Homo sapiens: one gene and its partners. The protein of the gene in region 6 interacts with the protein of the main gene of each other region in a pairwise test. Each region holds a gene or a part of one and is shown on either strand. Other genes may lie near its edges. The genes, in order: NPEPL1, RXRB, IRAK1BP1, ESR2, PLCB1, TFCP2 and PPP3R2.

Evidence for each region.
Region 1: the proteins of TFCP2 (region 6) and NPEPL1 interact in binary tests that used the Homo sapiens proteins (3 or more experiments, as listed by UniProt).
Region 2: the proteins of TFCP2 (region 6) and RXRB interact in binary tests that used the Homo sapiens proteins (3 or more experiments, as listed by UniProt).
Region 3: the proteins of TFCP2 (region 6) and IRAK1BP1 interact in binary tests that used the Homo sapiens proteins (3 or more experiments, as listed by UniProt).
Region 4: the proteins of TFCP2 (region 6) and ESR2 interact in binary tests that used the Homo sapiens proteins (3 or more experiments, as listed by UniProt).
Region 5: the proteins of TFCP2 (region 6) and PLCB1 interact in binary tests that used the Homo sapiens proteins (3 or more experiments, as listed by UniProt).
Region 7: the proteins of TFCP2 (region 6) and PPP3R2 interact in binary tests that used the Homo sapiens proteins (3 or more experiments, as listed by UniProt).

The regions. Positions count from the first base shown.
Region 1 is NC_000020.11:58,702,526-58,706,799, forward strand, and holds part of NPEPL1 (probable aminopeptidase NPEPL1), read left to right. Parts: intron 1-2,972; exon of another isoform or gene 2,973-3,044; intron 3,045-4,274. UniProt on the Homo sapiens protein: Probably catalyzes the removal of unsubstituted N-terminal amino acids from various peptides.
Region 2 is NC_000006.12:33,194,909-33,197,971, reverse strand, and holds part of RXRB (retinoic acid receptor RXR-beta), read left to right. Parts: intron 1-30; coding exon 31-210; intron 211-1,365; coding exon 1,366-1,538; intron 1,539-1,935; coding exon 1,936-2,065; intron 2,066-2,269; coding exon 2,270-2,402; intron 2,403-2,505; coding exon of another isoform or gene 2,506-2,517; coding exon 2,518-2,609; intron 2,610-2,921; coding exon 2,922-3,027; intron 3,028-3,063. UniProt on the Homo sapiens protein: Receptor for retinoic acid. Retinoic acid receptors bind as heterodimers to their target response elements in response to their ligands, all-trans or 9-cis retinoic acid, and regulate gene expression in various biological processes.
Region 3 is NC_000006.12:78,891,066-78,895,339, forward strand, and holds part of IRAK1BP1 (interleukin-1 receptor-associated kinase 1-binding protein 1), read left to right. Parts: intron 1-4,274. UniProt on the Homo sapiens protein: Component of the IRAK1-dependent TNFRSF1A signaling pathway that leads to NF-kappa-B activation and is required for cell survival. Acts by enhancing RELA transcriptional activity.
Region 4 is NC_000014.9:64,277,065-64,281,338, reverse strand, and holds part of ESR2 (estrogen receptor beta), read left to right. Parts: intron 1-1,185; coding exon 1,186-1,358; intron 1,359-4,274.
Region 5 is NC_000020.11:8,733,456-8,737,729, reverse strand, and holds part of PLCB1 (1-phosphatidylinositol 4,5-bisphosphate phosphodiesterase beta-1), read right to left. Parts: intron 703-4,274; coding exon 538-702; intron 1-537.
Region 6 is NC_000012.12:51,096,317-51,100,580, reverse strand, and holds part of TFCP2 (alpha-globin transcription factor CP2), read left to right. Parts: intron 1-801; coding exon 802-926; intron 927-1,662; coding exon 1,663-1,805; intron 1,806-4,264.
Region 7 is NC_000009.12:101,592,170-101,596,360, forward strand, and holds the start of PPP3R2 (calcineurin subunit B type 2), read right to left. Parts: upstream 2,801-4,191; 5' UTR 2,753-2,800; coding exon 2,240-2,752; 3' UTR 1-2,239. UniProt on the Homo sapiens protein: Regulatory subunit of calcineurin, a calcium-dependent, calmodulin stimulated protein phosphatase. Confers calcium sensitivity.

The DNA of each region.
Region 1 (4,274 bases), on a different chromosome or scaffold from region 6:
AGGGTTTTTTGTTTTTTTTTAATAGAAAAAACATGCCTCCCTATGGGTCTCTTGGGGTAATAGATGGTGGAATGAATGTTTGTTTCTGGCTTTGGGTCTTAGCATCTACACGTTTGACAATGGTTTCATTTAAATTGATCTTCTTTACTAATGTATGTTCAGTAGGCAGAGTTGCCAGCTGTCTTCACTCATAGTTGGTCCAAGAATACTATCTGTTAACTTTGATTTTGAAGAGCTCCAATCTCGTGAGGCAACAGATACACAGATACTTAGGAAAAGTCTTTAATACGGTATCATTTGGCAGAGATTCTTAAAAATCCCATTTCACAGTAAATTCCAGCAATCACAACACCCACTGTGTGTTCAGTTCTTCAGGGTGGATTCTTGTGGCTTTCAGATGTCTGCAGAACAAAAGCATTTTGGACACAGTAACTCCAAGTGTTCACATGGAATGAGGGAAGTGAAGGAACGCAGGTTCCGCGTCTTCGTTTTGACCATCCCGCACTCTCGTGTTTTATTTTGGGTCCTCTGTTTCGACACCGGGAGGTAGGAAATCATGGGCCCTGGAGGCCCCGACTGTGCCCAGAGCCAGCCCACAGGATCTGACTGTCAGAGCGATTCTCAGAAGGAATGTGGGTAGTAGATTTTGTGTCGGGTCATTGCTAACGTCCATGTAATGTTACTTTCAGGATAAGTAACAACGATATGCGAATTTGAAGCTTTTGTTTGTGTGATTAAAACGCAACCGTAGCCACAGCAATTTTTTAAACTTCAATCAACAACAGATTTTCGGAGGAGGAATATGTTATTGCTGACTTTGTTCAGAGATACCGGCACACGGTGGTAATAAGCAAACTGACTTCTAGTCGGTTATGATTCCTAAATTCGCCACAGATAGTGCACCCCCTACTGCCTGCACCTGGTACTGGCTGCTCCCACCCTCGCACGCACCCTCAATACCCACGGTCACCCTGGAAGCCGCTACATTCTGGCTGGTAGAGTCGTGGACCCTCTTCTCCTTGGATCAGATGCTTGTTTTTGATGTCGGCTTGTTGTGGACCAATGTGAGAAGATGAGCTTCCTGGGAATTCATTCGTTTGCTTGTGGCACTAACTCTAGTCACTTAGGGAAAATATCGTTGCACCTGACTTCATCTCATGTGGCTGTGGGTAGACCTGTGCAGTTAGTCAGCTCCCGGCCTGGAAATTAACACAAAGGAAAAACCTGACCACACAGGCCTTCCCTAGAGGCCACAGCTGCACAGCCTTCAGGGAAGCTGTGGTCTGAGGGTGGCTGGTAGAACTGCCAGAGAGTAGGGCATTTTCCATGGCTCCAGATCACCTTCTGAAAATGCGACTATAGCCCCTGCCTATTCCCGGGGTCCACCTGGTCTGCAGACCCCATAATACCAGGAAGAGCTGGGTGTTCTGGCACCAGTGAAACAATACCTGGTTTTTTATTTTAAACCAGCCCATCTTCCCCGCTGCAGTTGGAACCGTTCTACGTGGATTTGGGATCAACCAGCAGGCCTTTCCTGAGCTGTTACTGTGTGGAGTGGGCGCTGAGGCTCCAGCCATTGATGCAAAGACCCCAATCCTGACCTGAAGGCGCTCACAATCTCTCCCCAACGGCCTGGTGTGAAACGCAGACGCAACGCAGCAGGCATTCTCCCCAGTGGCTGCCTGTAGAGCAAATGGTGCAGAAATGGTCACTCCTCAAAAAGCAAGCCGGCTGGAGCCAGCCCAGCTCCCAGTTTTGCAAGAAAAAAAAAATCACAGCTCCATTTTCAAAGATTTCAAGGGCAGCTCAAGACCAGCCTGGACTAGCAGGCCTCAAATGCATTACTGGAGACCCCTTTACGCTCTTAACAAGTACCGACCCCAAAGAGGCTTTTTGTATAACAATGTCTATTGATATTTACTCTACTGGAAATTAAAAGTGAGAAATTTATAACATGTATAATTCATTAAAAATAACATATAAATCCATTGCATGTTATCATAAATAATTTTATGAAGATAAGCATCTTCCAAAATGAAAAAATAATTTACTGAGAGAGTAGCATTGTTGTACATTTTCACAAATCCTGTCAGTGTCTGGCTTAATAGAAGACAGCTAGGGACCTTGCGTCTGCTTCCGATGTAGTCTATGGAAATGTGTTGTTTCAGTTGAACTGTATCAAGAAAATCTGGCCTCACGCATTTTATAGTTGAAACAGGGAAAAGGATTTTAGTACCTTTTTCAGCTAACTAACTATGAACATTCTTTGCTACTACACCAAAACTCAACAAGTGGTAGCTTCTTAAAGGCTGGTTATAACATGGAATCTGAAGCCTCATGAATAGACTTTTGGGCTCTGTGGCAGTTAAATCCGCTGTTCTCTCTCACTTTGAACATGTGGTTTTTCATGGAAAAATGAATGTTCACTTGAAAAATGTTGGTTCACAGAGTTCTGCAGAAATTCAAATTTTTGACACATTACATTATATAGTATCAAAAAATCACTTAATATCACCATCCATCTCATCAGAAAACTCATTATGAGGAAGTTGTCATGGTGATAGGAGAAAGTTTTTCAAAATTCTGATTTTTGCTTAAAAGCTCAAATGTATACCATTGGCAATAAATAATGTCAGCTGTTTCTGGAAGTAAGAGGCTCAGTTTGTTCCTTTTCTGGGAAATATCTGCCAGATACCTAAATCCAATTAAATGCCATTTGTCTGTCAGTTTTTCTTTCAAGTAAAGATGGTGTCGTGGCCAGAGTGGCTCATGGAGCTCAGAACTCCCCCAGCAATCACAGCTGAGCTTCTGCTCTGACCGACCACTGCCCGTCAGCAACAGCAGGAGTACATTATGAGTCACACGGAATATGGAAAATGTATTGTACCCAAGGGTTGAGAGTTTTAAAAATTAATTTTACTGCTTCAGCAAGGAAATTCTAACGTGAAATTGGCATTGGTTCATTTTCCCAGAGGGCACGGAAACGAATACAGTGGCTCCCGGACCTCTTTGGGACTGTGGCCTGATACTCCAGCACAGGGGGTGTAAGTGTCAGCCCCGTGAAAAAGGCAGAGACCGTCTTAAATCACTGCGAAAATGGTTTCTTCTATAAAAACAGAAACAACATATGGGGGCTGGTGAAACTTTGCACAATCAATCAGTTGAGCTGTATTTGCAAGCCCAGTCCTGGCTCCACCTGCAATTGGGAAGGAGCTGGCAGCTGTGACGGGGGAGACATGGTGTACAGTGAGCAGCCGTTTCCAGGCATTGCTGTGTGACCCATTTTGCACATGGTTTGATTCCAGATCGGAGGCCCTGTTTTTCCATTTAAACAATCCTGTGCTTTCTCAAACAGATTAGCTCAGAAGAGATGGCTTATTTTCAGTAGTACAAGATGGGTCATTTTCACTCAATTATAAAAGCAGCTCAATTTACATCTAAAAATACTTTGCACTAAAATTCAAAGCTTGTGTAATAAGATAAGGGTTCAAAAATGATTCAGTAAATTTCATACCCAAACCTTTACCTCTGAGGACCTGCTGTTAATTTAAAATATGAACTTGTGAATTTGATTTGGGAACCTGTAAAATGTAAAAATGTGTAACACTGTCAACCAGCGTATAGGAAACAGTGTGGACACTGCAGGAGAAGGGTGGCCCCTCTTTAGACCCAGGTTAACCAGGAGGTGTGAACTATTAACCAGGAGGTGTGAACTAGCAGGAGGGCAGAGGTGGCCCCTTCTTCTGGCGATAGACCTGGCAGTGACATGAAGGAGCGACAGGTGTCCTCACTGCTGGTGGTGTCAGTGGGGGTGGATGTGACTGATTTTGGCGAAGAGTTCACATCAACCCTCACCATCATTCAAGGTTGTGATGAGGGGCAGAGAATGCTGAGCCTAAGTCTCGTTAGGTGGTAAAGCCCTCTAAGTGCCAGGGAGAGGAAGCTAGGCCCTGTTCTGGGGGGCGACAGGTGGCCAGGGCAGGTTTGCATTGCGGCAGCAGCCCCTCAGGCTTCCTCCCTGCCATAAGCACACTAGGAATCTGCAATGGGTGCAGGAAGCACGCAAGCCCACCCAGGTCCCTGAGGTGCTGGCCAGGGACCTCCAGCAAGCCCCAGAGGCTCCCTGGACCTCAGCTTCCTTCTCACGCTGTGCGGAGGAGTGGAGAGAGTGGCCCTGCAGACAGACCCCCAGGCGGCGTGGCAGCCCGGGACTGAGGTCAGGGTGCCCGGCGTCAAAGCACGGGGTCCCTGTTTCAATGTCAGAGCCCGGCCAC
Region 2 (3,063 bases), on a different chromosome or scaffold from region 6:
CTTCTTATTGCTCCTCCCCTTTCCCTGTAGGCAAACACTACGGGGTTTACAGCTGTGAGGGTTGCAAGGGCTTCTTCAAACGCACCATCCGCAAAGACCTTACATACTCTTGCCGGGACAACAAAGACTGCACAGTGGACAAGCGCCAGCGGAACCGCTGTCAGTACTGCCGCTATCAGAAGTGCCTGGCCACTGGCATGAAGAGGGAGGGTAAGGACCCGCCCTGCCCAGGCGTCTTAGACCACATGCCCTTCTCCCTTATCCCACTCAGACTGTGTACCTCTCTGGAAGGGTGGACTGCTCTCTCTCCTCTAGAGGGCGATATTTGATTTCTCTCTCCCTTCGCAGCTCTCCTCCCTGTTACCCTGTTCTGGCCCTTGAGTTTCCTTCTTAATGGTTAGGCCTCTGTGGCCTGCACATATGACCCCTCCCTAGACTGATCCTAGGATAGGATAACTTTTCCTTAGCCATGATGGGCTGTCTCCCCATTTCTAACCTGAGTGGTTCCTCCTCTGATTCCATGGACCTTCTCTGGTCTCTGTCTCCTGTTATCTGTGATCTTTCCTCTAACTCCTGGGACTGGGCACTCTTAAGCTTACAGACTTTACTGAAGACCTCAGGGCTTCCCTTCCTTCTTCTGTGTCTCCATCTTATCTTCTTAAGTCAGATTCCTAGGATTCTGAGAGACACTTTAGAGCATATCTTGGTCAAAACACCCACTTTAGAGAAGATGAGCCTGAGGCTTGGCTTTCCCAAGGTCATGCAACAAAGGAGTGGCAGGCAGGTTTGGGATCAGAACCCACATCTTCAAAGACCTAGGCCAGTGCTCCTTTCACTGCCTATTTGTTGAGTCAGAAGAGCACAAGATTTGCACTCAGACACACTTAGAGTCAGTTGTATGACCTGCCATGTATTATATGAATTTAAGCAAACTAATCTCTTTGAACCCCGAGTTCTTCATCTTAAAAATGAGAATAAATGCTTCCAGCATCATTATGATAATTGAGTGAATGGTAAAATGTGCTTAGCATGTTTCTTGGCATATTTTATTTAAAAAAATTTTTTTTTTCAATCAGCTTTCTCAGGTTGAATCTTGGCATGTTTTTTTTAACCATGTAGTAGGCTCTCCATTTAAATTCCTCCCTAATTCTTTTACCTACCTCACCCTTCCCGACTGACTTACCTGCCCTTTTATAACCCTTCCTTCAGGGCTGCCCCCAGTCCACCCTTTCTAGTGACTTCCCCAATTCCTATAAATATCTCCCAAGGGCCATGAGATCCTGATGAGGCCGTAAGGATATTTGTGGAACCCCTTCATGGCTGGCTGCTGACTTTCCATTTTTTCTCTCCCCCTTCCCCCTGCAGCGGTACAGGAGGAGCGTCAGCGGGGAAAGGACAAGGATGGGGATGGGGAGGGGGCTGGGGGAGCCCCCGAGGAGATGCCTGTGGACAGGATCCTGGAGGCAGAGCTTGCTGTGGAACAGAAGAGTGACCAGGGCGTTGAGGGTCCTGGGGGAACCGGGGGTAGCGGCAGCAGCGTGAGTGTTGGGGTCAATCCACTCTCCTTCGTGATGGGGGTTGGGGGAGGCAGTCTAGGTCTGTTCTACATCCCCTCCCCCTCCTTTCCCCTCATAACCTTCCTAACACTACTTGGGACTGGAGGTGCTGCCAAACAAGGTCTTTCAAACATCTGAGGTGGATGTGATAGCTCCTTCTGTCTCCACTCCCCAAACAACCCACTGGCAGAACCATAGGCATGTCCCAAATAAATAATTGTTTGCACTAATGCCAGAAGAGAAGACTCACTTACAGGGATTGGTTTGGATGGGGCTCACAGGAAGACTATATGTAAGGAGGGGGTGTCAAAAGCCTCTTACAAGGGGGCTCCCAGCATATCTCAAAATCTTCCATAACTCTTACCCCCGTCCCCTGCAGCCAAATGACCCTGTGACTAACATCTGTCAGGCAGCTGACAAACAGCTATTCACGCTTGTTGAGTGGGCGAAGAGGATCCCACACTTTTCCTCCTTGCCTCTGGATGATCAGGTCATATTGCTGCGGGCAGGTCAGTGACCTTGGATCCCTTTGACTTCTTGACATTTGACCCCTCTTTGACTTCCCGATCTTTAGTGACCCCAGTGGCCTTACCTTGCGTACCCAGGGAGCCAAACTTGCTGACCTCGCCACCTCTTTTCTCCTTCTCTTCCACTGATGTGCTTTGAATCCCTTGGCCTGATTTCTGGCTCCTGACCCTTGCTGCCCCACCCAGGCTGGAATGAACTCCTCATTGCCTCCTTCTCACACCGATCCATTGATGTTCGAGATGGCATCCTCCTTGCCACAGGTCTTCACGTGCACCGCAACTCAGCCCATTCAGCAGGAGTAGGAGCCATCTTTGATCGGTCAGTGGCCCTCGGCTAGGCTGGCATGTAGATAGAGGGGGTGGGGCTATAGGCTGGTCCGTGTCCAAGGCTGGCTGAGCTGTGACCTTTGAGTGACCTGCAGGTCCCTCTCCAGGGTGCTGACAGAGCTAGTGTCCAAAATGCGTGACATGAGGATGGACAAGACAGAGCTTGGCTGCCTGAGGGCAATCATTCTGTTTAATCCAGGTAAGAGGAGGATTACCTTTGTCTCTCAAGGCCAAGGCAACCTTGGAGCCTCCTCTTCTCCGAGACTCCTAAGTTACCCAGCTATCCCCCTCAGTAAGACCCTCAACCTGGAAATCTCCCAACTGGCCGAGGAAAAACCCACATCCACGGATCCATCCCACAAACCCAGTGGGCCCTGCTTCCCTTGCCAGGCCTCTGGTAAAGGGCAAGCAAGTGCAGCCCAAAAGGGGCATCCTGTGGCTCACATCTGCATGGCCATCCTGATTTGGTTTGTCTTCATTTCTCTTCCTCCTCTCTTCCCTGCCATCCCAGATGCCAAGGGCCTCTCCAACCCTAGTGAGGTGGAGGTCCTGCGGGAGAAAGTGTATGCATCACTGGAGACCTACTGCAAACAGAAGTACCCTGAGCAGCAGGGACGGTGAGATGGGGCTGGGGGGCACTGAGGCTCCCTTGG
Region 3 (4,274 bases), on a different chromosome or scaffold from region 6:
AGAAAAAAATAAAGGAACTCATAGATTACCCAATTAATTTGACCTATTTATTTGAATTTTATAGCTTTTGTCAGAGGGTTTGAAGGACATGTACAACTAAGAAAGCAAACAAATAAAAATGAACTGATTATTAACTCCCAGGAATTCAATGAAGACTAGAAGAAAAGAAATGCAATCATAGTACACTATATTGTTCAGCTGTAAACAATCATAATAGTACAAACACTGACTGTTGATTTAATTTTAAAAAAAGGTTCTAAGTGATGACTTTAATGGTAGGTGAATGAATGGATGTGGGAAGGAGGGTTGGATTAAAATCCTAGCTTTGTGATTCCTATACCAGTACTCTTTCCACTTTTTATGTTATTTTCATGTTATAACCTTAGTGTTTAGAGGAATTTTTTTTTTTTTTTGAGACGAAGTCTCACTCTTGTCACCCAGGCTGGAGTGCAATGGCGTGATCTTGGCTCACTGCAACCTCCGTCTCCCAGGTTCAAGCGATTCTCCTGCCTCAGCCTCCTGAGTAGCTGGGATTACAGGCTCCTGCCACCACACCTGGCTAATTTTTGTAATTTTAGTAGAACCGGGTTTTCACCATGTTGGCCGGGCTGGTCTCGAACTCCTGGCCTCAGGCGATCCGCCTGCCTCTGCCTCCCAAAGTGTTGGGATTACAGGCGTGAGCCACCGTGCCCAGCCTAGAGGAATTTTTTAATCCTGGGGTATAATAGGTATTCAATACTGTGTATCAGGAAGCAAAAGTAGTAGTATAACTACTCATATAGTTTTCTCCCCCTTCTTTCCCTCTCCTTTTCCTTGCATGCCTGCTATGTGTTAAGCATTTTCCATATATTATTCCATCCAATCTTTTTTATTTATTTTTATTGTGAAATATTTTATACATATATAGGCATGAATATATAAGACTCATTCCGTTTTCAGACATCTGATCAATAGAGAATCTTTGAACATTAAGCCAAAATTGACTCACTAGTAGCCATCTATTAGTGTACCTCTGTAAGAAGAAACAAAACAAGGTAAATACTTCTTCCTTAAAATATATACTTGAAGTTCATTTTCATATTGATGCTACTTTTTTTTTCTTTTCCAGGGTAAGAACCCTGTTTGGCCATTTCTTATGTAACAAACTCTTTCTTTAGTTAGCCAGTTTCATTCAAAACCATCTATAGCTATATTGTTCTACTTATGATTTGGCCAGTCCAAACTAGAGAAAGTTGATTATCTCCCTTATTCTAGAATATTTATTTCTAATAACACATGCAAGACTGAATTAACTTTTTGGCATTTGCATCATATTGTTCCCTCAATTCAGCTTATAGTCATAATAATTATAAACAATAAAAGTGTCTTTCTCATGTGCTACCTTTAAATCATATTTTTTTCATCTTATACTTTGTTACTGCTATTTCAGTATGAACTGTGGGATTTTACATTTATTTATATGAAATTTTATCTTAATTCGGTTTACCTGTATTTCTAGTCTATAAAATAGCAGAGAAGTAAAGCTCATAATAAGGAGAAAAATCAATTCCAAACCAACTCAGGAGTGACACAGATGTTAGAATTAAAAGACATAGTCATTAAAAGTTATTTTGGCTGTAGTTCACATGCTCAAAAGTTAAGGAGGGATGTGCAAGATATTAAAAACAAAAAACAAATTGAATTTCCAAAGATGAAAACTACAGTGTATGAGATAATAAATACACTGAATAGGATTAACAGCAAATTAGACCTTACACAAGACGTGCTTAGTGAACCTGAAAATGTAGCAATAAAAAGTATCCATAATGAAACACAGAAAAGAAAGATGTAAAAACGAGTTAATAAAATGTAGGACAACATCAAATAGCCTATTATACATATAATTGAGGTCCCAATGCAGAGGAAAGTGGGGGACAAGAAAAATACTTGGAAAAATTATGACCCAAAAATATCCAAACTTTATGAGAATTATAAACCCATGGAGTCAAAAAGTTCAACTAACCCTAAGCACAAGAAATTGAAAAAAAAAATGCACCAGTACACATTATAATCACATTGCTCAAAACCAGTGATAAATCTTAAAACAGCCAGAGGAGGAGAAAAAAGACATATTATCTACAAAGGAACAAAGGTAAGACAACAGATTTCTTGTTGAAAGCAATGCAAGCAAGGAGACAGTTGTGCCACATCTTTAAAACTAAAAGGTGTATATATATGTGTGTATATATGTGTGTGTGTGTGTGTGTGTGTATATATATATATATATATATATATATATATATATCAACGAAGAGTTTCTATTAATATATCCAGCAAAAGTAGTGCTGAAAAACAAAGACCAATTAAAGACCTTTCCAGTAAGCTGAAATAATTCATTACCTGTAGACCTACACTATGAGAAATTTAAATGACATCATTTAAGCAGAAAAGAATGATGCCAGAAAGAAATAGGAATTTATACAAAGGACTGAAGAGTACTGAAAATGGTAACTACGTGGGTTTTTCTTAATATAAATCTCTTTAGAAATCTCTATATTTATATAAAAGATAACTGACTAGGCTGGGTGCAGTGGCTCACACCTGTAATCCCAGCACTTTGGGAGGCCGAGGTGGGTGGATCACCTGACGTCAGTTCAAAACCAGCCTGGCCAACATGGCGAAACCCTGTCTCTACTAAAAAATGCAGAAATCAGCCAGGCATGGTGGTCACGCCTGTAGTCCCAGCTACTCAGGAGGCTGAGGCAGGAGAATCGCTTGAACTCAGGAGGCGGAGGTTGCAGTGAGCTGAGATCACGTCACTGTACTCCAGCCTGGGCGACAGAGCAAGACTCTGTCTCAAAAAAAAAGATAACTGACTAAATAAATGATAATGATGAACTACAGGGATTATAACATATGTAAAAATAAATTATATAACAACAATAGCACAAAGGTCAAGAAGGGAAGAACAGAAGTACAGTGTTATAAACTTCTTATATGTGAAATGATATGCTAGCTCTTGATGGTAGATTGTAATAACTTAAATATGTATTCTGTAAATCCTAAAGCAAACACTAAAATAATGGAGTTACGGCTAATAAGTCAATGAAAGCTATGAAATAATATAATAAAAATATCAAAAAGAAAACAGAAAATGAGTAAAGGGGAAATAACAAGACCACAGGTTTAAATTTACCCATGTCAATAATCACGTTAAATGTAAATGGTCCACATACCTTCATTAAAATACAGATATTTTAAGTTAACTCCACTTACATGCTGCCTGAGAGAAGTGTACTTTAAATATGAAGACATATGTTGGTTAAAAGTAATGGGATGGAGAAAGATATGTCATGCTAACGTAAATGAAAAGAAAGCTGGAGTGGCTATAGTAATCAAAGTAGATTTCAGAGCAAAGACTATGAAAGATAAAGACAGTCATTTCATAATGATAAAAGTCAATTAATCAAGAGGACATACAGCACTAAATATTTATACATATAATAAAGCTTCAAAATACTTAAGGGAAAAATGATATAACTACAAGGAAAAATAAATAAGTCTACAACTTTTGTAGATTTCAATACCCCCCTTTTCAGTAGTTGATAAGACCATAGACAGAAAATCAGTAAGAATATAACAGATTTGAATCACACTGTCAACCAATTTGACCTACTTGACATATATAGAACACTCCAAAAACAGCAGCCTACACATTCCTTTCAAGTGCACATTGAACATTTGCCAAGGTAGACCATATTCTGTGTCATATAAAAGTATTTGGCCGGGCGCAGTGGCTCACACCTGTAATCCCAGCACTTTAGGAAGCTGAGGCGGGCAGATCACCTGAGGTCAGGAGTTCAAGACCAGCCTGGCCAACATGGTGAAACCCCGTCTCTACAAAAATACAAAAATTAGCTGGGCATGGTGGTGCACACCTGTAATCCCAGCTACTCAGCAGGCTAAGACAGGAGAATCGCTTGAACCCGGGAGGTAGAGGTTGCAGTGAGCCGAGATCGTGCCATTGCATTGCACTCCAGCCTGGGCAACTGAGCAAGACTCCATCTCAAAAAAAAAAAAAAAGTATTTGAATCATACAAAGTTCACTGACCACAGTGTAATTAAATTAAAAACCAGTAATAGAAGGGCCTCAGGAAAATCCCCCAAATATGCTGAATTTTAAAACATACTTTTCAGTAACCCATGTGTCAAAGAAGAAATTGAAAAGGAAACTAGAAAGTGTATAAGGAAGAAATCATGCCAATTCTATACAAATTTTTCCAGAAAACTGAAAA
Region 4 (4,274 bases), on a different chromosome or scaffold from region 6:
ATCAATAATACCTTTACCATTCCCTTTCCAAAAGAACCATGCCTGGCAACATCAGGAACTAGCCAGATGTGTTTTGGAGGCTGCCTGGGGATCCCTTGTTAGACTTTTCGTTCCTTTATGAACCTCTTGCCTGTGGTCCAGCATTGAGCCTCTGCTTCCTTCCAAGCCTTTCCAGGCCAGGCACTTGCTTGTTCTCTCTCTTCTCTTCTCTCTTCTTTTTTCTCTCTCCCTTTCTCTTCTCTTCCCCCTTTTTCTTGTCTCACATTCATCTCAAGGTAACTTAAAGTCCATTTGTTATTCCTCTTAAAGTTATTTTTATTTTATTTTTTTGAGATGGAGTCTCACTCTGTTGCCCAGGCTGGAGTGCAGTGGCACAGTCTTGGCTCACTGCAACCTCTGCCTCCCGGGTTCAAGCAATCTCCTGCTTCATCCTCCAAAGTAGCTGGGATTACAGGTGTGCACCACCATGTCTGGCTAATTTTTGTATTTTTAGTAGAGATAGGGTTTCACCTTGTTGGCCAAGCTGGTCTCGAACTTCTGGCCTCAGGTGATACGCCCACCTTGGCTCCCCAATGTGCTAGGATTACAGGCATGAACCATTGCGCCCAACCTGAAAGTTATTTTAAATCTAGACCTTTATCTGAAATTGCAGAGTGTGAGATGTTTGTTCTCCATTTAAATGGGAACTTCAAATGTCTGAAGGGCTGCTTAGCAATGCTGTTGGGAATGACTGATGTTTGGAAGTGGTTGAATGCCTTCACACCCATCCATGCAGCATTCGTGAACTCTAGTAACTACAGAAGACCAATGCATATCCTGCCTGTGGTTCAGACCTGTGGGTAAGATTTGATCTGGCCACTCCTTTCATTACACTTAGAGATGTAGCTCCCACCCCATGGCTATGACTGGTCTTCGGCAGTGACAAATGCTCATCAGCATCACGTGGATGGGCATAAACTCACCTACCCACTTTCAAACATTAGTCATTCCCCACAGCGTGGCTCTTTGTAGATATGATATCAGTATCAAAAGCTTTGCTGTATCAGATTTCCGGGAATATATTTACCAGGAACCCTGGAGGAAAAAGAGATTAAATTAGGCAATGTTCATGCTATTTTTTTTTCCTAGAAAGCCCTTCCTTTCCCTTTTATGCTCTGTTCAATGGATATTTTCTTTGCTCCCTAGAGAGACACTGAAAAGGAAGGTTAGTGGGAACCGTTGCGCCAGCCCTGTTACTGGTCCAGGTTCAAAGAGGGATGCTCACTTCTGCGCTGTCTGCAGCGATTACGCATCGGGATATCACTATGGAGTCTGGTCGTGTGAAGGATGTAAGGCCTTTTTTAAAAGAAGCATTCAAGGTACAAGAGAATTGTTAACTGCTTCTTTAGTTTCCTACTTTTGATTTCAAACAATTTTGCAGAGATGACTTGGCAGAAATGTCACTACTGGCCTGTTTGGCACACAAAGTATTTGATGAGCAGTTCAGAGGATCATGTGTGTTTGGAAGTGGGTTGGGTGGTGGGGTGGAATTGCAGATTTCTACCCCAGAACCCCAAGATTATACAGCCAACTCGAATGGGTCTTACCCCTCGTTCACCCACATGGGTGTTGGATAGAAGACATCGAGTTACAACCTTGTGAAGATGTCTCTTGGAAAAAATGTGCTCACAAGGAGTTGCAAAGATTGTTTCTTTCTTTTACTTAAATTTAATATATAGCATGCTTAACAGTCATGATGGTGGGCTGGCTCCTGAGGAAGAAAGAATAAACACATTTTTTGGAAATGGTCAGAAATCAGGAATTCAGCTACAGTGGACTTTGAGAATTGATCTAGACACATTTCTTCCCCTAGGCTAGGAGGGTCTCAGTTCACAATCCCCTTGTTTTCTGGGCTGTGTTTAGATTATTTCCCTAACTTTCTCTAAACGCCTTCTGGATTTTTTTTTTTAAATCAACTTGTTGATGAAAAGAATCAAACTCTGTAAAATATTTGAAGAGATTTATTCTGAGCCAAATATGAGTGACAAATGGCCTGTGACATAGCCCTCAGGAGATCTGAGAACATGTGCCCAAGGTGGTCAGGCCACAACTTGGTCTTATACATTTTAGGGAGACATAAGGCATTAATCAATGCATGTAAGATGTACATTGATTCAGCCTGAAAAGGCAGGACACCTGAAAGCAGGGGCTTCCAAGTCACAGGCAGTTCAAAGATTTTCTGATTGGCAATTGATTGAAAGAATTATTATCAGTAGGAAGCAATGATTGGGTTACAATAAGGGATTGTGGAGACCAAGGTTTTATCATGCAGATGAAGCCTCCAGGTAGCAGGCTTCAGAGAGAATAGATTGTAAATATTTCTTAGGGGTCTTAAAGGGTCTGTTCTATCAGTGATTCCAAAAGGGGAGGGAGGGTATAATGAACCATGTCTGTCTCCCTTGTTCCATCATGGCCTAAACTTATTTTTCAGGTTAACTTTGTAATGCCCTTGGCCAAGAGGAGGGACCCATTCAGATGGTTGAGGGGCCTTAGAATTTTATTTTTTGGTTTATAAACTTCAAGTTGTGCACCCCTGATTTCAAGGCTGGTCAGCTCATCTCCCTGCATGTGTCTTTGCTACACTCCTTCTCTCGTACCAGCCCTGATTTGCTGAAGTCACTTTCTTGCTTACTCTTGTTTTCTCTATTTGCCCCATAACCTGTCCCTCAACTGCTCCCTCCCAGGCAACACCCTATGTTTCCATCTGAAAGCTCCCTTCCTTTTTCTATCAAAGCCCCAATGCTTTGTTCTTTGCCAGTTAAGAAAAGCAACGTTGAGAGAATTCATAGTGTGTAAATGGCAAATAGCAATTTACTAAATTAACTCACCCATTGATAACTCTAAGAGGATGTTTTACCTTAAGCAGAGAAATACTGATAGAATCCAGGATATGGTGAGGAGTGAAATGTTGGTAGTCACCTTCCTACCTGTCCCCTGAAATTCACCCTGTATGAATGGCAGCCTCTTTGTCCTGGATTTTATAATTACTAGCTCTGCGACTTCACCTCCTAGCCTGTTTCCTCCTCTGTGAAATGGAGATACTCATAGGGATTTTCTAAAGATGAAATAAGGTTGATTATATGAAAACATATTCAGTGCTCAAATATTTTATTTGTGACAATCTTAACAGTAGATTATAAGGCCAAGTCCATTTCCTGGCTATATGATAAGAACAATATTGATTTTCTGAAATTCTGAACTGAATTCTTGATACGATGACTATTTTGTATCTTGCTGAGTTTCTAGGATTTTACCCCTTAAGAACGTTTGGACCTATTACTACTAACCATATCTTTTAAAAAGAGATCCTTCTTTTTTTTTTTTGCTTTTGGGGAAACATTGGTCTGCTTGAAACATCTTTGACCCCTGAGACTACAGCTAATAACAATTGAAAGTAAATTTCCTTTGCTTCTCTATGTTGTTTCTTCCTTCCTGCTGCATCAGACAGGAATGTCAAATTCTAAATGTGCAAAGAGGAAAGAGTTAAAGCTGTTACAGTTGTACAGTTGTAGTGCCTAAATGATCCTTTCTTTGCATGCTTCCTGTCTTTGATATAAGTGCATTACAGTAACTGAAAGTGGCCACTTATTTTTAAAATTGTCTCAAATAGGCCAGGATGGTACAGTATTGAGAAATTCCTTGCATGTAACTTTTTTTTTTTTTTTTTTTTTTTTGGAGATGGAGTCTCATTCTGTCACCCAGGCTGGAGTGCAGTGGCACAATCTCGGCTCACTGCAAGCTCTGCCTCCCAGATTCACACCATTCTCCTGCCTCAGACTCCCAAGTAGCTGGGATTACAGGAGCTGGCCACCACACCCTGCTAATTTTTTGTATTTTTAGTAGAGACAGGGTTTCGGCATGTTAGCCAGGATGGTCTCGATCTCCTGACCTTGTGATCCGCCCGCCTCGGCCTCCCAAAGTGCTGGGATTACAGGTGTGAGCCACCGCACCTGGCCCATTCTTATGTTTTTTATAATTTTAAACTTGTCTTGCTAACTTGATTTATAAGCTAATTGACCATATCTTAGTCATGTACCTGTCCCCTTCACTGTACAAATGCACTGGAAGCTGTGTTGTGCTTGCTTTTCCATTGATACTTTGTTGGCTTCTTCACACAATGAGTTGCCATCAGAGTGATAAGTGCTGTTGTTTCTCTACTGGGTTATGGAGCACAGAGGAAGGAGGACATAGGGAGAAGGACCTCATCACTTCATCTGGTCCAGATGACAGCATGG
Region 5 (4,274 bases), on a different chromosome or scaffold from region 6:
TCCTTTACATGATAAGCATGTGTGAAGATTTGCTTTTTGGTGAAGAAAGAGAAGGGCCCAGTTGAGTGTGAAAGGTTTCAACTTTATTAGATAGAACCCAGACAAGATTGAATGACCAGCTCTCAGAGGCTAGAGATTTTGGGGAATTTAAATAATATTCCTTTTAAAGGAAATATGAATTTTCTTTATCTCAGCCACTATATTATTCCCTACTTCCACTCTACTTCTTTGAGTTATAATTAAAATGTATCATTTATCATTTGTACTATCAGATGATATGAGTTAAATGTATATGTTTTTATGGCCGTCCATTTGAGGCATACTAGAATGAATTGATTTACAATACAATTCTGAAAATCCAAACCAGTGATTAACAGAATTCTTGAAGGGTTTTCAGAATGGCTTTCAAAAGGTAATTGCTTTATAAGTGTGTAAATTTTCAAATTAAATAACAAATAATTCACCATTTCATTATTTTCTCAGTGTAAAACACCTGAAAAATGCAGTTATAACTCATATCAAGAACATGTGACCAACCTTTTTGAACACAATAGGTTCTTCTTCCCAGACAGGATTCACAGCATTTCCTTGGGATGTTTTGGTCTTAAATGCCTTCCTCCTTGTATCCACAGGCAAACCAAACATATCTACTTCCACGTAAGTCCCAACTTTCTTATCAGAAAGAAACTGACCTGAAATAATCTAGAAAATCAATAAATCAATCAATCCATAAGGAATTTTGATATGCAAATAACAAAGACATAAGAGAATACTTTAAAGAGCCACAAATGCTCTTCAGCAAATGTTGAATTATAAGCAAAATGGAATAGAAGCAAGAGTAGAAATATGATTTCCCTTTCACTTAATGGGTTATGATATGGTTTGGTTCTATGTCCTCACCCAAATCTCATGTTGAATTGTAATCCTCACATATTTGGGGAGGGTGATTGGATTATGGGAGTGGTTTCTCTCATGCTGTTCTCATGATAGTGAGTTCTCACAAGATCTGATGGTTTAATAAGTGTGTGGCAGTTCCCCCCTCACTCTCTCTCTTCTCCCTTCATGTGAGGTGTGCTTTGCTTCCCCTTCACTTTCCACCATAATTGTAAGTTTCATGAGGCCTCCTCAGCCATGCAGAACTGTGAGTCAATTAAACCTCTTTTCTTTATAAATTGCTCAGTTTCAGGTAGTTCTTTATAGCAGTGTGAAAATGGACAAACACAGGTTGGTAGAAGGATATTGAAAATGGTGAGGTTAGAAGTAGTCAATTAATAAGACACAGTATTGTAGGAGGAATAAATGAACAAGTATTCACTTTAAACCATCAAGATAAGTTTATCATTACCCCTAATCTCACAAGGTGTCACCATCTTTGTCTAGCTACAGAACTAATGGATATTATAGACTTAAAAGAGATTTTTAATATTACGTATTTATAAATGTCTTCCATGTCTGCCTCTGTTTCTATGCAAATTTTCAAAATCTGAACTATCCACCAGCTGTCATAAAGGTTAGCGGAGGCAAACAAGATGTGCTTCTGCTGTATACCAGGAAGGGGAAAGCAGGAAGCAAGTGCTGACAGAGCAAACCTGGTGAATCTGGGTTATGTGGTTACAAGAAAATTGCCTGCTGGTCAAGAACTTTCTGAGCTCCAGATTGTGAAAAGGGGACAGCATTATGGCTGGGCTCACAATCTGAGCTCAAGATTGTGAAAGGGGACAGAATTATGGCTGGGCCAGAAATCAGACAAAATGGTGGCATGAGAATAGCTATCAAAGGCTGAGTAAAGTCAAAGTCAGCTATATGCTGATGTTGTCAGAAATTCTGAGTAATTCAGAGAGAAAGTCATCAGGAAGGCTCTCTGAATTTGCCCTGGGACAACTCATTTCCCCTGTATGTTCTATTTGGCTTGAGTGCATGGGACCTGCTAGCAACAATCTCTTTGTTTAACTTGAGGTTCTATGTGAGAACTATGTCTATGAAATAAGCAAGCATTTCAAAACATGTTTGAAACTTCTAAGTTATGCAAGTCCTACTTGGAATTCAGATGCACAGAAGATGTTGTATGTTTAAGATGTTTGACCAAAGCAGAGTCCTAAACTAAATTCATGACACCAAAACCACAATGCTCTCGTCAGTAACATAGGACGGTAGAACATCATGTGAGCTCACAAGTCCATTCTGGCATTATAAAATCTATGCCAGAAGATGAAAACAAAGGCATAATTGGAAAGTTATGATCTGTATCTTGGCTCTAGCTATAATGTCAAAGGTAGGACTCTACTGCAGTGAGAACTGTCCATTCAGGGGAGACTGACAGCTCTGGAGCAGCGTCTCCATTCTGGACAGGAGCAGCAGGTTACACTTGTCTGGGGATCAACTATTTCCCCTTCACAACTCAATGTACTTTCCTGCCTCTGTGTCATTGTTTTATAATTGCTTACTGTCACAGTAGGATTTTCAAGACAAAAAAAGAAATAAGCAAACAAATACATTCAAAACAAGACGAATCTGCAAGCAAAGCAAAAATATTATTAATTCAACCGAACTATAACAACAATTGACAAGGATTCTAAAAGTAGCATTCTATCAGTACATGGAGCTTATGAGTTTATCTTTATCACACCTGACAGGAATTAAACAGCCTTTTCTGAAAATACTTTCCTAAAATAAACTCTAATTCTGCCAACTTGAACTCTTTATACATGTGGCTTGAAGTAATTTCAAAAGATATAATTATGAGACACTTCACTGAAATTTTATTCTTTAAACCCTTGATATAAAGTGACGAAAGTTTTAAGGTAAAAATGTGCTCAACTGCTTAGGGTAGAAAGAAATTAGTGAAGCTGTTATAGAAAGCTTTTTACATAGTTTTTCAAATGCCTTTGTTTAAGGTTAATCAAAAAATTACATTTATGTCCAGTAAAAAAATTTCTTAGTTCTATAGTTATTCAGTTAAACAGAAAACAGACAATATTTTTGAAAAGCTTTAACGATGAAGAATCCATGTAAAATGTATTCTAAAAAATTGATTTTCCTTTCATAGTATTAAAAATATTTTCTGGTAGCTAAAAAATTATATCTGATATAAAATCAATTTCAAAGACTAAAAAAATTTAGAATTGTTTAGGGTCAGATATACATATGTATGTGTATATATCTATGATTTTTATATATTTATGACATACATGTATATATACATATATATTTAATAAAGCAACTCTTTTATTTAATGATCATTAATATGTGTTTTAAAATCTCTGAATACTCTGGAAGATTTTCAAAAACCATTTAAAGTAATTTGAAAGCTTTTGTTTAACATTTGATAATTTATTGAGGGAATGTTCTGTCTCTAATTTTCTAAGAACCAAACGGGGAAAAAAAGACCGGAAAATCTCTCCAATATGGGCCACTAATTATCATGTAAATTTCATAGTAGGTTAGTTACACCAAAAAAGAGGTTTGCTTATGATGAGTCTCTCCAACTCATTTTATTGATTTAGAGTCAGATTTTTATCATTAAGAATAAAGTTCAGTCGCTTTATCTTATTCATGTGGCCTATGAAAACTTTTTTTTTTTTTTTTTTTTTTTTTGAGACAGAGTCTCGCTCTCTCGCTCTGTCGCCCAGGCTGGAGTGCAGTGGCGCGATCTGGGCTCTCTGCAAGCTCCACCTCCCAGGTTCACGCCATTCTCCTGTCTCAGCCTCTTGAGTAGCTGGCACTACAGGCGCCCGCCACCACGCCCGGCTAATTGTTTTTTTTTGTATTTTTTAGTAGAGACGGGGTTTCACCGTGTTAGCCAGGATGGTCTCGATCTCCTGACCTCGTGATCCACCTGCCTCGGCCTCCCAAAGTGCTGGGATTACAGGCGTGAGTCACTGCGCCCGACCCTACCAAAACTTTTATTATTATTATTATTATTATTATTATTATTATTATTATTATACTTTAAGTTTTAGGGTACATGCGCACAATGTGCAGGTTAGTTACATATGTATACATGTGCCATGCTGGTGTGCTGCACCCATTAACTCGTCATTTAGCATTAGGTGTATCTCCTAATGCTATCCCTCCCCGCTCCCCCCACCCCACAACAGTCCCCAGAGTGTGATGTTCCCCTTCCCGTGTGCATTCATAGATGGGAATTGAACAATGAGAACACACGGACCCCTTACGAAAACTTTTAATGTGTATTTGATCTTTAGAGAAAAAAAATGTAGGAAGAAAGTAGAATCTTTCCTAGTTACTAAATTTTTAATGACTAAGCCACTTCT
Region 6 (4,264 bases):
CCTTCCTAAAGTGCTGGGATTACAGATGTGAGCCACCGTGCCTGGTCATATTTGTTTTTGTCTACATCATAAGGGATGTTGAATCTTGGAAAATTTTAAGGAAGGAAGTGAAATCAGGGGTTGATGACTTGTGGAAAAATAATTGATCTTTCATTTTTTCAAGCATATTATCTAAAGGGTGTTTAGAAATTGGAAGGAGTAAGATGATCAGATCAAGAGGTAGTTGAATACCTTTCTCTAAGAAGAACAGAGAAAGGACTTAGGCTAGTTAGGAGAAGGTAATGAGAGAAATAAGATGATCTAGTTTACTGTGTTGGCATTTTTTAGTAAAAAGTATATCTTGAACCTGACCCATTAGACGGTGGCTTTTATATTTTGACTATTTCTAACTTTTACACCAAAGGCCACAAACTCAAATGACTATAGAGTACATACAGGTAATGTAAGTGAATGGCAGTCAAGACTGGGGTATAGTGAAGAATATATGCATCATGTAAGAAGAACGGCTGATTGTTTTCATGTGAGAATGCAGGCCTAAGATTGCTAGATCTGAGTCTTCAGGAAAAGCCAAAAGTTCAGAGGTTTATATGATGTCTCATATTGGAACTAATTCCACTTAAGGAAAAAAAAAACCCTACTACTGGGGAACTAATAAAACATAGCAAATTAATTGCATTTGGCCAATGAGCTTCCAATTTTCATCTGCTCTATACGATTAATGTAGAAACACAATTTCTCCCTTCTTTTTATTGTGCTTACCATAAAGAATGTAAGACTAATTAGCCTTTTTCCTCCCCTTAGGATGGTGCGTCCAAGGTTAACCATTTATGTTTGTCAGGAATCACTGCAGTTGAGGGAGCAGCAACAACAGCAGCAGCAACAGCAGCAGAAGCATGAGGATGGAGACTCAAATGGTACTTTCTTCGGTAGGTTGTTCTGGACACACTAGGACAGATATGAAGAAAGGTGAAGAGATAACTTATGGGCATGTGTGATGGGAAACTATCAAACAGCAGATTTAGTATTTGCTAGAAGTAACAATAATCACTAGCATTTATTAAGTTCCTAATACATGGCAGGTGCCATTCTTTTTTTTTTTTTTTGAGACAGAGTCTCACTCAGTTACCCAGGCTGAAGTACAGTGGCACAATCATGACTCATTGCAGCCTTGACCACCTGGGCTCAAGTGATTCTCTCCCCTCAGCCTACCGAGTAGCTAGAACTAAAGCTACTCATTTGCCTAATTGTTTTATTTATTGTAGAGATGGGATCTCCCTATGTTGCCCAGGCTGGTCTTGAACTCCTGGGCTCAAGCGATCTCCCTGCCTCAGCCTCCCAAATTGCTGGGACTATAGGTGTAAACCACTACACCCAGCCAGGTACTATTCTTAACACTTTTTATATGCTTTAATATTTACAACTAATATCTCCTCTTTGCGGAGGATTTTACTGTTATCTCCGGTATTTATGCAAGAAAAATCAGGCCTAGGAATGTTAAATAACTTGCCCTAGGTCACACAGCTGCAAGTGGTTGAGCCAGGATTTGAACTTAGGCAGTGTGATTTCTGAGTCCTTCAGAAAAGTGGGCATTCCTAGTGATCAAGTTACCTGTAAGAGTGGACAAACTTTGTACTGACTGCTGTTGCTCTCTCCCTTTTGCAGTTTACCATGCTATCTATCTAGAAGAACTAACAGCTGTTGAATTGACAGAAAAAATTGCTCAGCTTTTCAGCATTTCCCCTTGCCAGATCAGCCAGATTTACAAGCAGGGGCCAACAGGAATTCATGTGCTCATCAGTGATGAGGTAGATTTTTCAGTACAGTTGAATTACCAGATGATGATTAATTTGTCAGCGCATGGAGCAAGAGCAGTTCTCCTGGGGCAGAGTGTTCTGTTTTCTAGATCAGAGGGTTTCATACTTTTTTGCTTGCTTTCCTCCTAATTTTTTTTTTTTTTGAAACAGTCTCTCTCTGTTGCCCAGGCCGGAGTGCAGTGGCCCAATCTCAGGTCACTGCGACCTCCTCCTCCTGGATTCAAGTGATTCTCCTGTCTCAGCTTCCCGAATAGTGGGAATTACAGGCGTGCGCCACCACGCCTGGCTAATTTTTGTATTTTTAGTAGAGATGGGGTTTTGCCATGTTGGCCAGGTTGGTCTCAAACTCCTGGCCTCAAGTGATCCACCCGCCTCGGCCTCCCAAAGTGGTGGGATTCCAGATGTGAGCCACTGCGCCTGGTCCTAAAATATTTTAAAAACCACATATTCCCATGCACATTTTTAGGTTGACTTAAAATTTTTTGTTAAAGTTTAAATAGTTGTAAAAGATGTCATTTCTGGGCATATATAATGACATTTTTAAGTGAAATGGTTACATCATTATTCTAATTGCATCCCATGTAACCTTAATACAAAAATGATTTAATACCACCACCATCCATTAAAAAAAAATACATGATTGTGCTTTTCTTTAACAGTTAGAATTCTTATACTATTCCTCTGTTTCCTTGAACTCTTATTTTCATTTACTTCCCCCGGTGAATTTTATCTTACTGTAACTTTTTTTTTTTGAGACAGAGTCTCACTCTGTCGCCCAGGCTGTTGTGCGGTGGTGTGATCTCGGCTCACTGCAACCCCGCCTCCTAGGTTCAAGCAATTCTCCTGCCTCAGCCTCCCAAGTAGCTGGTATTACAGGCACCCACCACCATGCCTGGCTAATTTTTGTATTTTTAGTAGAGGCTGGGTTTCACCATGTGGCCAGTCTGGTCTCGAACTCCTGGCCTCAAGTGATCAACCCGCCTCAGCCTCCCGAAGTGCTGGGATTACAGATGTGAACCACCACGCCTGGCCATCTTACCATAACATATTTTTATGCACAAACATCTTTTATTGATTATCCTACTATATTTGTTTGAAATAAAGTTTTTAAATAAAAATTTAAAAATTATTATAATGGAATTATCATAATTATACAATTGATTAAAATAATGTAAATATGCTACATGTTTTAATAAGTAATTATTAAAGATTAAGAAGGCTGCCCAGGCGCAATGGCTCATGCCTGTAAACCCAGCACTTTGGGAGGCTGAGACGGGTGGATCACAAGGTCAGAAGTTCAAGACCATCGTGTCCAAGATGGTGAAACCCCATCTCTACTAAAAATACAAAAATTAGCTGGGCATGATGGCAGGTGCCTATAATCCCAGCTACTTGGGAGGCTGAGGCAGAGAACTGCTTGAACCCGAGAGGCAGAGGTTGCGGTGAGCCAAGATTGCGCCACCGCACTCCAGCCTAGGCGACAGAGCGAGACTTCATCCAAAAAAAGAAAAAAAGAAGGCCAGGCACAGTGGCTCACACCTGTAATCCCAGCACTTTGGGAGGCCGAGGCAAGCAGATCACCTGAGGTCAGGAGTTTGACCAACATAGAGAAACCCTGTCTCTACTAAAATACAAAATTAGCCGGGTGTGGTGGCACGTGCCTATAATCCCACCTACTCAGGAGGCTGAGGCAGGAGAATCCCTTGAACCCAGGAGGCGGAGGTTGCGTGAGCCGAGATGGGGGCATTGCGCTCCAGCCTGGGCAACAAGAGCAAAACTCTGTCTCAGAAAAAAAAAAAAAAATTAAGAAAAAATTATTACAGGTATATCTATGAATGAGTTCGATGAAATTGTTTCGTTCCCTACCTGTACCCTTGCACATAATTATTTCCTTTGTAGCTGAATACTGCCTATTGATTGCTAGAATGACACAGGATTTCAGCATCAATTCCATTCTGTTTTTTTCCTCTAGATATAAATGCTGAGGGACTTGATTCCCATAAATTGATAGGAATGGATGGAATTTTGTAATGACAATGTCATTAGATTATACTTCAGAATTATATACCAGAAATTACATAGTGATATTACCAAAAAATCATTTTGAATCCTCTGTCTTACGACAATTTGTGATTAGGTTACTCTTTAATTCTGGTGAAAGGAAAGAGTTAGAAACCATGTGGCTCATAAAAGGGTCTATTGCTCAGTTATTAGCGTTCACCTTCGCCATTCCACTTTGCCACCTGAAGCTTTCACATCATGGGCCACCTTATTAGGATCCTGGGAGGGTGAAACTCATGCCTTTATCTTGGGAGAAGGGAGTTTATCCCTGGGAGAAGGGAGTTTGAGAAGGGAAAGTGGGGAAGGAAAATTAAAGAGGTTTTAGGAAAGAGCACATATGGGAGTTGAAGACACGGAAGTCAGTTCTCCTGTATGCACATATTTGTGTC
Region 7 (4,191 bases), on a different chromosome or scaffold from region 6:
AAGGAGTGGTGAGGACCTTGAAATTGTTCCCATTGTTTTCTCTCTGGGCTTGGACATGGGCTGTACACTAATGTCCAGTTAATTTTAGAGTGGGTGTAGCTAAGAACTAAGTAAGTGTTCAAAAGCAACCAGTAAGCCTCATGTCTCCTTTACATATTGATCTTGTAGAAGGGGAAGAAGGGGGAAGGGAAGGGAATTAGTTGAATGAAAGTGGAATTGTGCTCCAGGTGTGTTGCATGCCTTTTTGAATCCTCAAAATAACCCTGGGGTGGATCCTCTTTAATTAGGTGGAAAGACACAGAGAGGCTAAGTAAATTATTCATGCTCACACAGCTAAAAAGAAGTGAGTGTGATAACAACCCAGTTGCAACTGAATCCAAACCCAGGTGTGTCTGAATCTTTGAACATTACATAACCCTGATCACCACAGGGTTGGGAGCGTTTATCACAGTTTTTAGGGTTGAACAGGAATTGAAGGGGTAAGGATTCCTATTTTTGTGGTTTCTAAGTAATCTATTAAATACAAAAGTATATGGTAGGGTACCTTGATAGATGGGTTCCCTACAAGTGATTAAATTTGTGGACTTTTTTTTTTTTTTTCTATTTTGGTCAAGACCAGTTGCCAGCTTCTTCCAAATAAAATAGCAGTAAATCTCCTTGAAACAGATCTTCCATGTCCTGAAAAAAGTTACCTGAGTGGTATCTCTTGGCTAAGCAAGTGTAGGGAGAGTATGTTTCATTGTTCTGCTGTTTTGAGAGCCTTAAGCATCTTATATGGGAAGTGGTTCTCTGTGAGAAAGAGGATTGGTATGGAGGCACAGATGCTGGGACAAGTCCTAGCCCTGCTCTTCTGAGGACAGTTCATGCTCTGAGAACTCACAATAGTATGTGGGACACCTCAGGGAGCTGGTAACATTTGGGGTACAGGCAGTGATGTATTTACTGGTAAACAAATTCTCCAAAACAAAACAAAAACAACTAAAAGCTTTTGTTCTTTTCTCACCATGGCTGATCTAAAGCTACCAACATGACATAAATGCGTGGGAAGAGACACATGCATTCTGGATCTCCCCTGGAACCACAGGCTCCGGCTCACCCAATGGTGGAGATCTGTTAGTGTGTGAGGACTTCTGCACTGAATGTTCCACTAGGGAAAAGGCTTCCTGGAATGAGAGAGCTCTCAGTTTCTCTTCTAGGCCTCAGATCTGATTTTCAAAATCAGCATAGCTGGTGTAGCTAGCATCCACCTCTGCTGTGGAGACACAATTGTCAGTCTCTGCATCTGTGAGCAACAGACATAATGCCACTTTGGCATCCTAGGGAGATTCCACTGCAGCCTGACTCTACTGCCTCTCCTCCGTAGGACAACTAACTAAATGTCTCATTGTCTCCACCTGGGGGTAGGGACCAGTGTCGGAGGTGAGAGCACTTTCTGGGAGAACACTTTGCTTGCCCTATTTAGCTGGAGGTCCCCTTCATTGAAATTAATGCTGGTGTGGGCTGCCAACCCTGGAAACCCACTGCTAATGAGGATGATGGCTGAGCTGGGCACTTAGTCCAGGCTTAGCATTTCCTATAAGAGCCCTGAAGCTAGTTTCTGTTCAGGAGCTGGAGCAACAAGTCAGGAGGAGGCCAAATGAACTCCTACCCCTCAAACATGCACAGCGATTTCTGGATGCATTGTGGGGAATGGGGCTGCAATCTGCCGAAGGAAAAGATGGGATTCTGTCCCCTAAGAAAAGTGATTACGAGATGCCCAGCAAAGACAAATATATTTGTCCCTGTTGCTACAATAGGAAGTTAACAATCTGGCAAGATATCTGAACACAAGCAAATGAAAACAGTTCACCTAACACCCATGCAAATTATAAATTTCCTCCCATATACAAAATGATGAGAAATAACAGCAAAAATGTATACTTTCTTATTTTTGAACTTTTAAAGTTCTAGTTTGGTCTTTGAATCAAAACAAAGTAAAAGATGTTTATAAAAGCCATTTCCTTTTCTTTCCCCACTATGCTCATTTGACTTGCTCTTCCCCCTATAGGGTACCCTGAGTCATTCAGAGAAGGAGAATTAATAGCACTGAGTTGGTGATGAAGCTCCTGTTAGGACATATGGCTTCACAAAAAGAAATACTTCCAGATAAGTCAGAGAGACAGTTGGACGTCTTGAGCAAATCTTGAAAGAGATAGGGAAGAAAGCAGAAGTTGTTGGGTGGTGCTTGTAAGAAAAAGGCTCATACGATGAGGACCAGCTTCTTGTGGATCTCCAGGTCTCTGACCACAGCACTGAATTCCTCAAAGGATATCTTCCCATCGCCATCCTTGTCCAGGATGATGATGGTTTTGTCGACCAGCTGCTGGAGCTGCCAGTCCGTCAGGTTGTTGCCCACCATCATCTTCAGCACCTGGAAGAGCTCCCCGTTGGAAATGTAGCCATCTTTATCCATGTCGTAAATGCTGAACGCAAACCTCAACTTCTGCTCCTCGTCGCCCTTGACGCTGAACTGGGAGGTCCCCAGGATGAATTCCTTGAAGTCCACTTCTCCATCACCGTCGGTGTCGAAGACGTCGATCACTCGCCGCACCAACGGGTTGTGGCGCAGCTCCGGCAGGGACATGAACTCCTCCACGCTCAGAGACCCTGATTTGTCCAAGTCCAACTTCTTAAACCTCCTGCCCAGCCTTTTAATTTCATCATTGTCAAAGTGGGAGCACATCTCCGCCGGGTAACTGGCCTCGTTTCCCATTGTGGACATCTGGCAACGGCCACGGCTCAAAGGGTCGGAGAGGGGAGCAGGGGCGGTGAGCTCGGGCGGGGCTCGTGCCCGGACGGTTGGGCCATGGGGTGGGGGTAGAGGGCTCCCGGGGGCCCTGGTCGAGCAAAAGGGCAGGGGAGCGGAGGGAGGGGCGGCAGGTCAGAGAGGGAGCGGAGAGAGGAGGGAAAGAAGGAGGGAAAAGGGGGCGGAAGGGGAGGTGGGTGCTGTCTGGGCAGGAGTATAGGGAGGAGAGAATGGAGCCTGGGGGTGCCCGGGAGAGGCAGAGGTGGAAAGCTGGGCTGCCCCTTCTCTTTTTCCTTCTCTCAAACTCCTTGTACCTTTCCATGATAACCCCAATTTCCCTGGCAATTATTTTATCTACTTATTTCTTTTTTTTTTTTCTCTGAGAAAGTAAACCCCAAAGGAGAAGGGATCGCACCTGTGTTATTCGCTGCAGTATCCCAGAAGCACAGTGCTTCACAGGCAATATGTGCTTAATAAATATACGCCGAATGACTGAACTGCAACCAAGGACACTGTATACTTGCTTTACAGACCTAGTGTAAGGATGAAACAAGGTGACACATCAAGGCATTGATATAGTATGTTTTCCACGATTCCCTGGGAGGGGAAGCCGGGATTGACATCCTTCTGTACCTTTTTCAGGACGTAGGATTCAGAGTGTTTGTAAGAGACCAGGCAGATACCGCGCAGAATTTCTTACATGGATCACCTACAGGCACTAACATATTCCCGAGGAATATAAACAATGCTGAATTCAGGGCGTTTTTCAAGATGACACAGGTCTCAAGAACACAACCTCTGTTACTCTGTTCCCTCTTATCCATCATCTCATGCCCGAGTCACATCTTTGTTGTTGGTGCCTGGCGGCTATTCTGCAGAATACCTTGGGGGAAGGTCTGCAATGTGCCCAAAGAAGCCTTTTGTGTGTGTTGAGAGTGACAGTCGCCTCTGGATGATCTCACTTTTCTCCTTTTGTTTCAACTAGATTTGTTCTTTCTGTTGAAGACTAATCTCACATGCTCCCTCTTATTCCTTCTTCCTTTCGGAGCGCATCAATTACTCCAAATGCATAAGAAACAAATGTGGTTCAAGAGCAAACAGTTCAAAGGGACTTGGGGGAACCTCAGGCCACTACATCAAACTGAAAGATGCAAACACTCCTTCGCTTTAAAAAATGTTGGCAAGTTCTGTGTTCTATAGTTCAGCCAAAATATCAGTCTAAAGATAACCATGCTGGAACTAGCAAAACTAAGCCACTGATCACCTTATCATTAAGTCTGGCCATTTTACTTTCCTCTATAAACAAATGATAATCCATGGATATGTTTTAAAGCTGATTATGGGCATTACACAAATGAAACCCCCTTTCCCAATTAGACTGTTATATTGGAATGTTTTTTTGTTTC